Linked DNA regions of Homo sapiens. The protein of the gene in region 1 interacts with the protein of each later gene in a pairwise test. Each region holds a gene or a part of one and is shown in the gene's direction. Other genes may lie near its edges. The genes, in order: PTF1A, RBPJ and TRIP12.

The links.
Region 2: the proteins of PTF1A (region 1) and RBPJ interact in a two-hybrid assay, tested with the Homo sapiens proteins (one study listed by BioGRID).
Region 3: the proteins of PTF1A (region 1) and TRIP12 interact in a two-hybrid assay, tested with the Homo sapiens proteins (one study listed by BioGRID).

Annotation. Positions count from the first base shown.
Region 1 is NC_000010.11:23,191,013-23,194,886, forward strand, and holds PTF1A (pancreas transcription factor 1 subunit alpha), read left to right. Parts: upstream 1-1,299; 5' UTR 1,300-1,518; coding exon 1,519-2,302; intron 2,303-2,691; coding exon 2,692-2,894; 3' UTR 2,895-3,233; downstream 3,234-3,874. UniProt on the Homo sapiens protein: Transcription factor implicated in the cell fate determination in various organs. Binds to the E-box consensus sequence 5'-CANNTG-3'. Plays a role in early and late pancreas development and differentiation.
Region 2 is NC_000004.12:26,428,863-26,432,218, forward strand, and holds part of RBPJ (recombining binding protein suppressor of hairless), read left to right. Parts: intron 1-1,035; coding exon 1,036-1,191; intron 1,192-1,556; coding exon 1,557-1,660; intron 1,661-1,829; coding exon 1,830-2,145; 3' UTR 2,146-3,356. UniProt on the Homo sapiens protein: Transcriptional regulator that plays a central role in Notch signaling, a signaling pathway involved in cell-cell communication that regulates a broad spectrum of cell-fate determinations.
Region 3 is NC_000002.12:229,768,510-229,772,160, reverse strand, and holds part of TRIP12 (E3 ubiquitin-protein ligase TRIP12), read left to right. Parts: intron 1-528; coding exon 529-642; intron 643-2,835; coding exon 2,836-2,930; intron 2,931-3,441; coding exon 3,442-3,545; intron 3,546-3,651. UniProt on the Homo sapiens protein: E3 ubiquitin-protein ligase involved in ubiquitin fusion degradation (UFD) pathway and regulation of DNA repair.

The DNA of each region.
Region 1 (3,874 bases):
AAGCGGCCCAGGAGGACGACTCCTTTCAGTCCTCTGTAGAGAGAATACGCACGATGGCTGCGCTTCTGAACTCTCCCGGGGTGGAAGCTGCAGCCTGGCTTTTAACCGGAATTGCCCAGACCTTGAAAGTGTTTCTTTGTTGCTCTTAAAAAGAGGAATTCACGTTGCATCGCAGTCTGTGATAAAGTCTGTCTTGGGGCAGAGCTGCATACGTTTTGTGTTTTTTTTTTTTTTCAGAAAAGAAAGGTCGAGAAAGAAAAAAACAAGTCATTCAGGGATGGTCCCTGTGGCCAGTCGGAAAGGTGAGAGACTCGGGCTTTGAAAACGATTCACATTCTGCCCTTTAACTTCAATGCCTTCCCTCCGGACTGCGCCGGAGCAGACGATTCAATGGACTCCTTTTGTATCCAGTTTATTGCTCAGAATCCCTAGGGTCTAGATTTGCTCTCAGAAGAAACGCGCCCCGCTGAGCTGCTCTGGGGGCTGCCCCTCCCGTCTCCCCATTCCTTTCTCCGGGCCGGGGAGGGCAGGGGAGGCAGCCACTGAGCCGATGTCGCTGGGGACCCGCACCAGGCACCACAGCCAGGCTCCAGAGCGGAGTCCCATAGGTGCGCTCCCAGCCCCCGTGTTGCGTCTGGAACGCAGTGGGAGTGGGCCCGGATCACCTTCCAATGACACCCGCATATACTCTGCAAACTGTGCAAAAGCCCTTGAAAAGTCCAGAGATGGGACAGAAGCCCCCAGCAGAACCCAGGCCGGAGCCCCGCGCACCTCGGATAAGGGGGTGGCGGAATGCACCCACCTGGTCCCTGAGGGCAGCACCCTTAGATTGCCCAGGCTGCCGCGGAGGAGGACGATCGCCGCGCGGGCTCCGCTCTCGCCGTCTGGGCCACCGGCGCGCACCCCTAGGAACTTCTCTGGCCGCGTGTAGACGCGGCGCGCGGCTGCCCCAGTCCCAGGGCGGAAGGAGCCGGCGCTGCTCAGCGCGCGCGGGTACGCAGCGGGCACCGCGGGACGCAGGTGCCCCTGGAGCCGCACGCGGGGCAGGTACAGAATCCAGTATGCAGAGGCAGAGGAGAGGGAAGAGAGCGGTGCGAGGAGCCCCGGGCCGCGCGACCCCGCCTTTTCCTCGCCCCAGGAGCTCCCAAAGGGAGCAAAACGCCCCCCACCCCCGCCCACCGCCGCGCCTCCGGGCCCCCTCGCCGCCGGCACACCGCGCTCTGATTGGCTGGCGCGATGGGTCCCTGGCACGCGCCTATGGATGTTGTTATAAGAATCCTCGCGTGCCGGCCCTCAGCTCCAGGAAGTCCGCCACAGCCCTCCCCAGCGCAGCGCGAGCGCGGGCCAGAGCGCAGCGGCCGCGGGCACTCCAGGGAGGCCCGGGGGCGGGCAGCCCGGCGGCCGCCTAGCTGCCCCCAGCCAGGGCCCCGGGAGGGAGGGGCTCGGACGGGCCTTAGAAACTCACCAAGAACTAACACGCGCAGCCCGGCAGTCCCGCTGCCCACTGCGGCGGCGAGCATGGACGCGGTGTTGCTGGAGCACTTCCCCGGGGGCCTAGACGCCTTTCCTTCTTCGTACTTCGACGAGGACGACTTCTTCACCGACCAGTCTTCACGGGACCCCCTGGAGGACGGCGATGAGCTGCTGGCGGACGAGCAGGCCGAGGTGGAGTTCCTTAGCCACCAGCTCCACGAGTACTGCTACCGCGACGGGGCGTGCCTGCTGCTGCAGCCCGCGCCCCCGGCCGCCCCGCTAGCGCTCGCCCCGCCGTCCTCGGGGGGCCTCGGTGAGCCAGACGACGGCGGCGGCGGCGGCTACTGCTGCGAGACGGGGGCGCCCCCAGGCGGCTTCCCCTACTCGCCCGGCTCGCCGCCCTCGTGCCTGGCCTACCCGTGCGCCGGGGCGGCAGTACTGTCTCCCGGGGCGCGGCTGCGCGGCCTGAGCGGAGCGGCGGCTGCGGCGGCGCGGCGCCGGCGGCGGGTGCGCTCCGAGGCGGAGCTGCAGCAGCTGCGGCAGGCGGCCAACGTGCGCGAGCGGCGGCGCATGCAGTCCATCAACGACGCCTTCGAGGGGCTGCGCTCGCACATCCCCACGCTGCCCTACGAGAAGCGCCTCTCCAAGGTGGACACGCTGCGCCTGGCCATCGGCTACATCAACTTCCTCAGCGAGCTCGTGCAGGCCGACCTGCCCTTGCGCGGCGGTGGCGCGGGCGGCTGCGGGGGGCCGGGCGGCGGCGGGCGCCTGGGCGGGGACAGCCCGGGCAGCCAGGCCCAGAAGGTCATCATCTGCCATCGGGGCACCCGTAAGTGCTTCCGCTTCCCAGCTCAGGGAGAAGGGGTCGGGCACTCGAAGGCTCCGGAGGGGCTGGGGGAGCTGACTGCCAAGCAGACAGTCGGACCGACGGATTGTCGGTGGGCACGGAAAAACTTGAATGCGAGCTCGCGTTTCTCGTTTTTTTTTTTTTTTTTATTTTTCTGCCACGTTGACCGCGGCTCTCAAGGGCGCGCGTCCCCGCCAGACTTGCAGCTCCTCGGATTCCTGGGAGGGGACGGTGGGGACTTGAAGTGTGGAGGAAGAGGGTGGTTCTAGTATAACCGGAGAGCACCCAGGAAAGGGTCCTAAAGGACCTGATGGGACCAATGGGAATGTGGTTGGATATTCACAGTCTGTTTTCTCTTCTCACCTGTCCAGGGTCCCCCTCCCCCAGCGACCCTGATTATGGCCTCCCTCCCCTAGCAGGACACTCTCTCTCATGGACTGATGAAAAACAACTCAAGGAACAAAATATTATCCGAACAGCCAAAGTCTGGACCCCAGAGGACCCCAGAAAACTCAACAGCAAATCTTCCTTCAACAACATAGAAAACGAACCACCATTTGAGTTTGTGTCCTGAGAAGTCCCAGACTCGGCTGAAGATCTGATTATGTCTCTGTGCATATTGTACATGTAAATATCTATAATGTAAATGTAATTTAAGAATCAAATTTTTCGAATGGCAATCAACTGTTTATTATTTATCTATTTATTATCCTGTTGAGTTGATGAAATAGATGATTTCTTTTTAAATATATAATTTATATAACTTATCCTGATTTTCTGAAAATATGCAATAGCCTATGATTTTCCTGAACTCTGTGTTGTTGGGAGAACTCTGGCCAGAAAACGTCCTGCTTATTTATTGCCAGATATGGTTTATTTCTAAGCGTTGTCAATAAATGCTATTTACACCTTTTCCTGAAGGTTTTTGAGTACATGATTTGATAGATACTCTTTAAAAAGAATTAACTTAGTAAAAATTAACCAAACCAGAGACTCAAAGTGTAGCTTTTTAGTAAGAAACTACATTTCAGACTTAGCCTAAAGGTGGGTAGGTTAGAGGATTAGACCTCAACTTTCTATGACAGCACTTCATCTAGGTCGCCTGCCCTACACAGCAACTTTTGTCTGTATTTTGGGCCACCTTCCAAACACCCTATGCAAATACATCCTGGAGTATTTATTGTTCCCATTTTGCAGATGGTAAAGTTAAGGCTCAGAGATGACATTTGACTTACCCAAGGTCACCCCTACGTTGTCTATTCCTGGTGTATAAAAGTGAGCGCGCGGTGCACTGTGGGAGCAGGGAGCTAGTGGGCTAAGCGAATGGGCCTTTCTGCTTCCACTGGCTGGGAAAGGGGCTACTCTTGAGCTGCCCTGTGACCAACCTCTTCGGCAGCAACAGCATCAGGTACCTGGAACTCAGGCTTACTCCTCACAAAGGAGATGGGACAGGCTACGGTGCCAAAGCCTAGAGACCACTCGGAGGCCACTCAACAAAATCCAGGGTCTTTTAGGTAAGGTAGGAAGAAGCCGCCCGCTACCCCTGCCACCTTC
Region 2 (3,356 bases), on another chromosome or scaffold:
ATGTTTTTAAATTACTGGTGAAATCTAAAATGTACAAACTGTGAGGTTAGCAGCTTGCAAAAATATGAAATTTTCATTTGCTGTTAATTATATACAAATACATGAAGCTATACACAGATATTTATCTCAGGTATGAGCATCCTTAACACACAATCCTCAGACATGCAAGCAATCCTTCCTCAAGGAAGAACTCAAAATTATGAAAATGTTCTCAGAGAAAACAGTTAACATCTAGTTCCAGGGTTCTTAATTGAAGAACAAAGAGCCCCTCAGGATATCCAAAAATAGATTTTCAGTGCTCATTGAATCCTCTGAAATTGTGTGCAAACATTGTATAGACAAAGCATTTTTCTGGGTGAAGGCTCAAAATCTCATCAGATTTATGTCGTGGTTTCCGAAGATAGTAATGATGACATGCTTTGAAAGCTAATGTTTTACATTTACTCAGAAGGCTTTCATGAGGTTATGACATGGGCAGATGATTTAATAAGACAGTTATGGTTTCATGTGAAACTCCTTTGCAGAGAGATGCCCATACACACTGATGGGCATGCTGAGTCCCTGGTCTAGGTGTGTTAAGGTAGGGGTAGGGGCTTTGCCTTCCCATCTTGATTCCCTCCCATGGAACATGCATAAGCTTCTAGCTGTTGCCTAAGCATGAGGAGTCCCATTGTCTTTCTTAGGAGTCCTTGAAGAGTTTTAAACAGCCATTTACATCACAGATATTGATCTGCTGTTAATGAAATTGTACCTGCATTGGTATACTCATAATGGTTGTTCTGAAAGGTATTATTATTTAATATGTCACTGAAATAGTTTGTATTATAAGAAAAACTGCTGTCTATGGGGTTTCTGTATTAGCATTCTGTTTGTGTTTATGTAGGGATTGGCAAAGCACCATACTTTAGAAAGTTTATAAGTTTTTACTGAGTTATCTTCTTATTAACTCTTGTCTGAGGGTTACTTGGTAAAATTTTCTTATCCTATTAATACAAACTGTATAAAACTTAGTTTCTAAACTTCTTTCTTTATTAGGCCACTCCATGTCCAAAAGAACCAAATAAAGAGATGATAAATGATGGCGCTTCCTGGACAATCATTAGCACAGATAAGGCAGAGTATACATTTTATGAGGGAATGGGCCCTGTCCTTGCCCCAGTCACTCCTGTGCCTGTGGTAGAGAGCCTTCAGGTGAGAACGCCTAGTCCAAGTTGGCCTTCAGCTCTTTGCAGCTACTCTCAGCTGTGACCTGGCATCATTTCATTTCATGGGAGTTTTGATTTTTCTCCAATCGTCTGATTAGGGGATTTTTATATACACCATTTGTTGATTTAAAGAAAAAAAAACAAAATTAGGAGGAGCGTACTTGCCAGAAAATTTAAATGTAAATAAACTTGTATGTTATCTTGAAATGTTTTTAGCTAGCTTTGTAATAAAAAACATTTTAATTGCCCTTTTTTAAAAAAAACAAATGAAAGTTGAATGAGAATCTAATTTGTGTACTTTAATGAAAAATGAAAAGTTTTCTCAGTGTTGTGATTTTCTGTGAATTGCAGTTGAATGGCGGTGGGGACGTAGCAATGCTTGAACTTACAGGACAGAATTTCACTCCAAATTTACGAGTGTGGTTTGGGGATGTAGAAGCTGAAACTATGTACAGGTACTTGATAAAACTTTTTGCATCATCCAGAGGTTGTGAGGGGTGTGGGTACAGGAGATTCTTTCCTGGCACTGATTGTAATGTATTAAACAACCTTGTGTTAAGTCTCATTTTTAACATGTACTTTGCTTTTTAAAGTGTTTTTAAGTGATTTCTATTTCCTCCTCAGGTGTGGAGAGAGTATGCTCTGTGTCGTCCCAGACATTTCTGCATTCCGAGAAGGTTGGAGATGGGTCCGGCAACCAGTCCAGGTTCCAGTAACTTTGGTCCGAAATGATGGAATCATTTATTCCACCAGCCTTACCTTTACCTACACACCAGAACCAGGGCCGCGGCCACATTGCAGTGCAGCAGGAGCAATCCTTCGAGCCAATTCAAGCCAGGTGCCCCCTAACGAATCAAACACAAACAGCGAGGGAAGTTACACAAACGCCAGCACAAATTCAACCAGTGTCACATCATCTACAGCCACAGTGGTATCCTAACTACCGTCTTTTTGCTAGGACTTAAACTGACTTGAGTGTGGCAAAAAGTTAACAAAAAAGGAGAAAAAATGAACAATCGTTTGTGGTTTCTTGGGAAAACTTTTCATACCAGGTGATACTATTCAAAAACCCCGTTGTCTCCCTGCAAGTGCTGATTTGAAATGCAGAAGCCACAGTAAAAAAAAAAAAAAAAAAAAAAAAAAAGAAAAAAAAATCAAAATGTATAAATATTGGAAATCAAGTTTTTCAGCTGTTTTGTTGGTTGGTTGGTTGGTTTTTGTTTGGTTTTGTTTAAATGGGCAAGAAGTAAATAATGTGGCTGGAATACAAGTTGAACAAACTAGAAGACACAAATCTAACATAGTTTTTATGGACCAAGGAACTTGTATATTGTATAAGCTTTAGTAAAAGGTACATTTTCACCATACCTTTTTTTATATCACGGTATTATAGTACACCTTGTTACCAAATAGGTTGTTCTCTTCCCCACCCACCTTTGAGCTTTTGCTCTAAAATACATTCAGGTTCCAAGCCTGACCATCCTTGTTTAATCTATCATACTCTTCCAGGTTTTTTTTTTTTGGTCTAAGGCTGGAACTTTTTTCTTTTTTTTCAGCTGAAGTCTTATGACTTTTCATGAGTCAAAATTGTTTGGATTTCAGCAAGTCAAATCTTGCAAAGGCCTGCATATTTTTTTTAAGATTATATGAAGTCTGTGCAAAAGCTTTAAAAAAATGCCTCTGCCTTGCCTGCAATACATGCAATGTATGTTAACTTAGTCTCTCTTCTCAGACACTGTTGGTAGTTATTTCTGTGTTTTCCTTTTTTTAAAAAAAAATATGGACTTATTGTGGTTATCTGAGAGGTTCTAACATTCACATGCAATTTGGTGTGGCCATTTAGCTATTAATGAGTTAATGGCGCAGAACTTGTTGATATTTGAAGTGTTCTCTCCCCTTTTCCCATGACGTAAATACATAGGTGTGTTCCAGGATTTGTTCAGGTTTTTCCCCCCTCCTAATCTTGTACATAACTTGTATTATGTGTAAGTTAAACATTTTATTTTGAACTTGGAATGTTCCCAGTGATTTCATTCAGCAGGGTATTTTCTGCCTTGTTGGCAAGTGACAAAAAATATGGGAAGTATTTGCTACCAGTTGGTAGATGGTGCCCTTAATGGTAGAATGAGGAAAATGTCCGCAAAAGCATGT
Region 3 (3,651 bases), on another chromosome or scaffold:
TTTCTTACCCTTCAATTGCATGTGACTTCATTTCCAGGCTTTGCCTACTTTTAGTAGGAAGCACACACTGCAGACAGGTTGGGTTCTAAGAACTTCACAGGATTTAGAACTAAACATTTTACGTTAAAAATTAAAAACCCTTAATAGTGGCTAATTGTGATTCTTCAAACATTACCTTTAATTCTCAATAACATTTTATCCTCTTGGGAAATTCTCATTTGATTCCCATCCAGTGAGGTAATATAACTGTATGGCATGGGTTTCACATAAATAGATTTTTAAAACACACTAAATGTAAATGCACATGGCATTTTTTTTTTACATTTTGTTATTGGTAGGGGCCCCACATTAGATGTTGACCTGATGTTTTACTCATGTAGTTTTCTAGCAGATTATTTTAAAGTCTTAATAACTTGTTTGTTCTTTATAAAGTGATCCAGAAGGGTGTTTCACTGTACTTTGCCACATATTAAATAGTAAAGAGATTTGAAATCTTGTCACAGTTTTTTGAAAACTTTCTTTTTGCAGCTGGTTATATTCTGGGCACTAAATGAAGGCGTTTCTAGGCAATTTGATTCGTTCAGAGATGGATTTGAATCAGTCTTCCCACTCAGTCATCTTCAGTACTTCTACCCGGAGGAAGTGAGTAGCTTATATCTAAAAGAAATGGTCATACCTATAATTTTAGTGGAGTGTTTCTGTGCTGCCTAGTCAAAGACCGTATTGTTGCACAAAAACAAAAAAATGGGTGTTAGATAGCAGGGGATGGATGTTTGGGAAAGACAAGGAAATTGCCTGAGCAAGGAAGAATGTTAAATAGGTGTCCCCTCTTAGATTGGGGAGCGGGTTCCACGCGTGACAGTAAGCATAGCATCTTTGTCAGCCAAGACCCTCAATGCCATTCAGTGGAGAATGGGGACTTGTGCTGTGTGTGGCATGTTCTACATGTTTCTGTACTGCTGTGGAAGCAAAGAGAGACATGGAGGGGGCTTGACTTTATTCCTTAACTAAACTTCGTTTCGATGAGACATTGTTTCACAATCAAAGTTAGTCCTTGAAGTTTTAAGAAAGTATTATAAATTATCTAATTGCCAAATACAGAGAATACTTCTGAGAATGGAAGAAATGGATTTATGTGCTTGGTTTTCTCTAGCCGCCTGTATTAGTCTGTTTTCATGCTGCTGATAAAGACATAACCGAGACTGGGCAATTTACAAAAGAAAGAGGTTTATTAGACTTAGAGTTCCACGTGGCTGGGGAGGCCTCACAATCATGGTGGAAGGTGAAAGGCACATCTCACATGGCAGCAGACAAGACGAGAGCTTGTGCGGGGAAACTCCCCTTTTTGAAACCATCAGATCTCGTGAGACATATTCACTATTATGAGAATAGCCTGGGAAAGACCTGCCCCCATGATTCAGTTACCTCCCACCAGGTCATTCCCACAGCAGGTGGGAATTGTGGGAGTTACAGTTCAAGATGAGATTTGGGGTAGGGGCACAGCCAAACCATATTACCGTCTTTAATTTCAAGTGCCAAATCTCAAAAGAACTACTCACTGGTAGTGAGATACAGAAAGCCTCTAGAATGTGTCCAGTTTCCCTCAGTTTTGAAACCTTTTTATTTATTGTTTGAATACTAGTTTTAGAGTGTATGTTCACTACTGATTAAATCTATAAATTTTTGATTAACTTAACGTCTTAATCTCAGTTATATTTGTGTCTACTTAAGCATGTAGTGTGCCTGATACTTGTAGGCACTGCTTGTCACCTGGAATAGAATCATGGTCCTCACCACTTGCTGTATAACCTTATCCAAGTTACTGTATCTGATAGGACTGTTTCATCTGTAAAATTGGAATAACCCCTATCACAGAGTAATGGAAATTAAATAGGCTGGGCACAGTGACTTAGCCTATAATCCCAGCACTTTGGGAGATGGAGGTGGGAAGATCACTTGAGCTCGGAAATTTAAGATTAGGCTGGGCAACATAGTGAGACCTTGTCTAAAATAAAAAAAATAATTAGCTGGGCGTGGTGGTATGCACCTGTAGTCTCAGCTACTTGGAAGGCTGAGGTTGGAGGATCACTTGAGCCCAGGAGATCATGACGGGAGTGAGCTGTGATTAGGCCACTACACTCCAGCCTGGGCAACAGAGCAAAGCTTTGTCTTTAAATATATAGGACCAGACAGTGAGCATTATATAATAGATATTAAATTTCATTGGCCTCAAATTGGATTTTCTCAAAGTATAAGGACATGAAAGCATTTATTGCTTTCTAATATTCATTCTATAATATCTGGGTTGGTCCCCATACAACCAACCATGTAGCGTAGACATGCCTCTCTACAAAGTGTAAAGACCTACCCATTTGCTGTGTCCTAGTTCAGCTTGCTTCTCCCACTTCTTTCTCCAGCTCAATGTTCTCTCCCTTGGCATCTGTTACTGTATACCTTTGTGTTTCTGAAAGCCAGGATTTATAAAATCTCCCTGACTAGAAGCAGATTATCCATTTAAAGCACCTAAAGTAATGAGAAGAAAGGAAAACTGAAATCAAGGGTCATCAGGTGTTTTTGGTTTGAGAGGAAGGGTTTCTCAGGAACCAAGTCCCTGCAGATGGGCAGGGTACTTAATAGCGTACAGCTAAAAAGGAAATGGAATCTCTAAATTTTATTTTATTTTATTATTATTTTTTTTTTTTTGGAAAGAGGTCCCAAGCAGAAGGTTTTAGTACTGAGACTGATACTCTTTTATGGTACACGTAGACCTTTATTTTCACTCACGTAAACAAATGTTTCCTTAGTAATTCTTTTTACCCTTATTTAAACTCACAGCTGGATCAGCTCCTTTGTGGCAGTAAAGCAGACACTTGGGATGCAAAGACACTGATGGAATGCTGTAGGCCTGATCATGGTTATACTCATGACAGGTAAGTACTGGGGTCTGCCAGTTTTTCTGTTGATTCTGAAGAATGTGGAGAGGGGTGTGTGTGTACACACACATGCGCACATGTGTAAACAACAAAAGTTGGAGTGGTTCATTTTAAAATGTGTCTACCTGTTAATGGATGCTTACTTCTGTTTTGGCCTTATTTCTCTGAAGATGGGAAATTAAGACCCAAGGGTTTCTTTCTCAAGTATTTCTGTGAAAATACTAGGGGTTGGGGAAGACAGATTTAATCTTGTTCCCCATTATTACATATAGTAAAGCAGAAATATCTGTACAGTACCAGATCAAGTCTTACTTATTACAACTGTAATCATTCCATTTGAATTCTAGTCTAGTCATAACAGAAACGAATTTAAGTACATTGTAATGGAAAATGTATGTGTAATTTAAAAGTGCTAATCTAATTTTTATGTCATGTGATGCGATGCAGTGTGATTAAAACTCTATTTTAACCTGATGAAATAATTTTGGTATATTTATTTCTGTTATAGTCGGGCTGTGAAGTTTTTGTTTGAGATTCTCAGTAGTTTTGATAATGAGCAGCAGAGGTTATTTCTCCAGTTTGTGACTGGTAGCCCAAGATTGCCTGTTGGAGGTGGGTACGATGTTGATGTTTAGCATTTATTCTACCTATGGGTGGGTTTGTGAGTGTGAAACTTCAGTACCATCAGCAGGAGATTCTTTATCTCACTTGCAGTGCC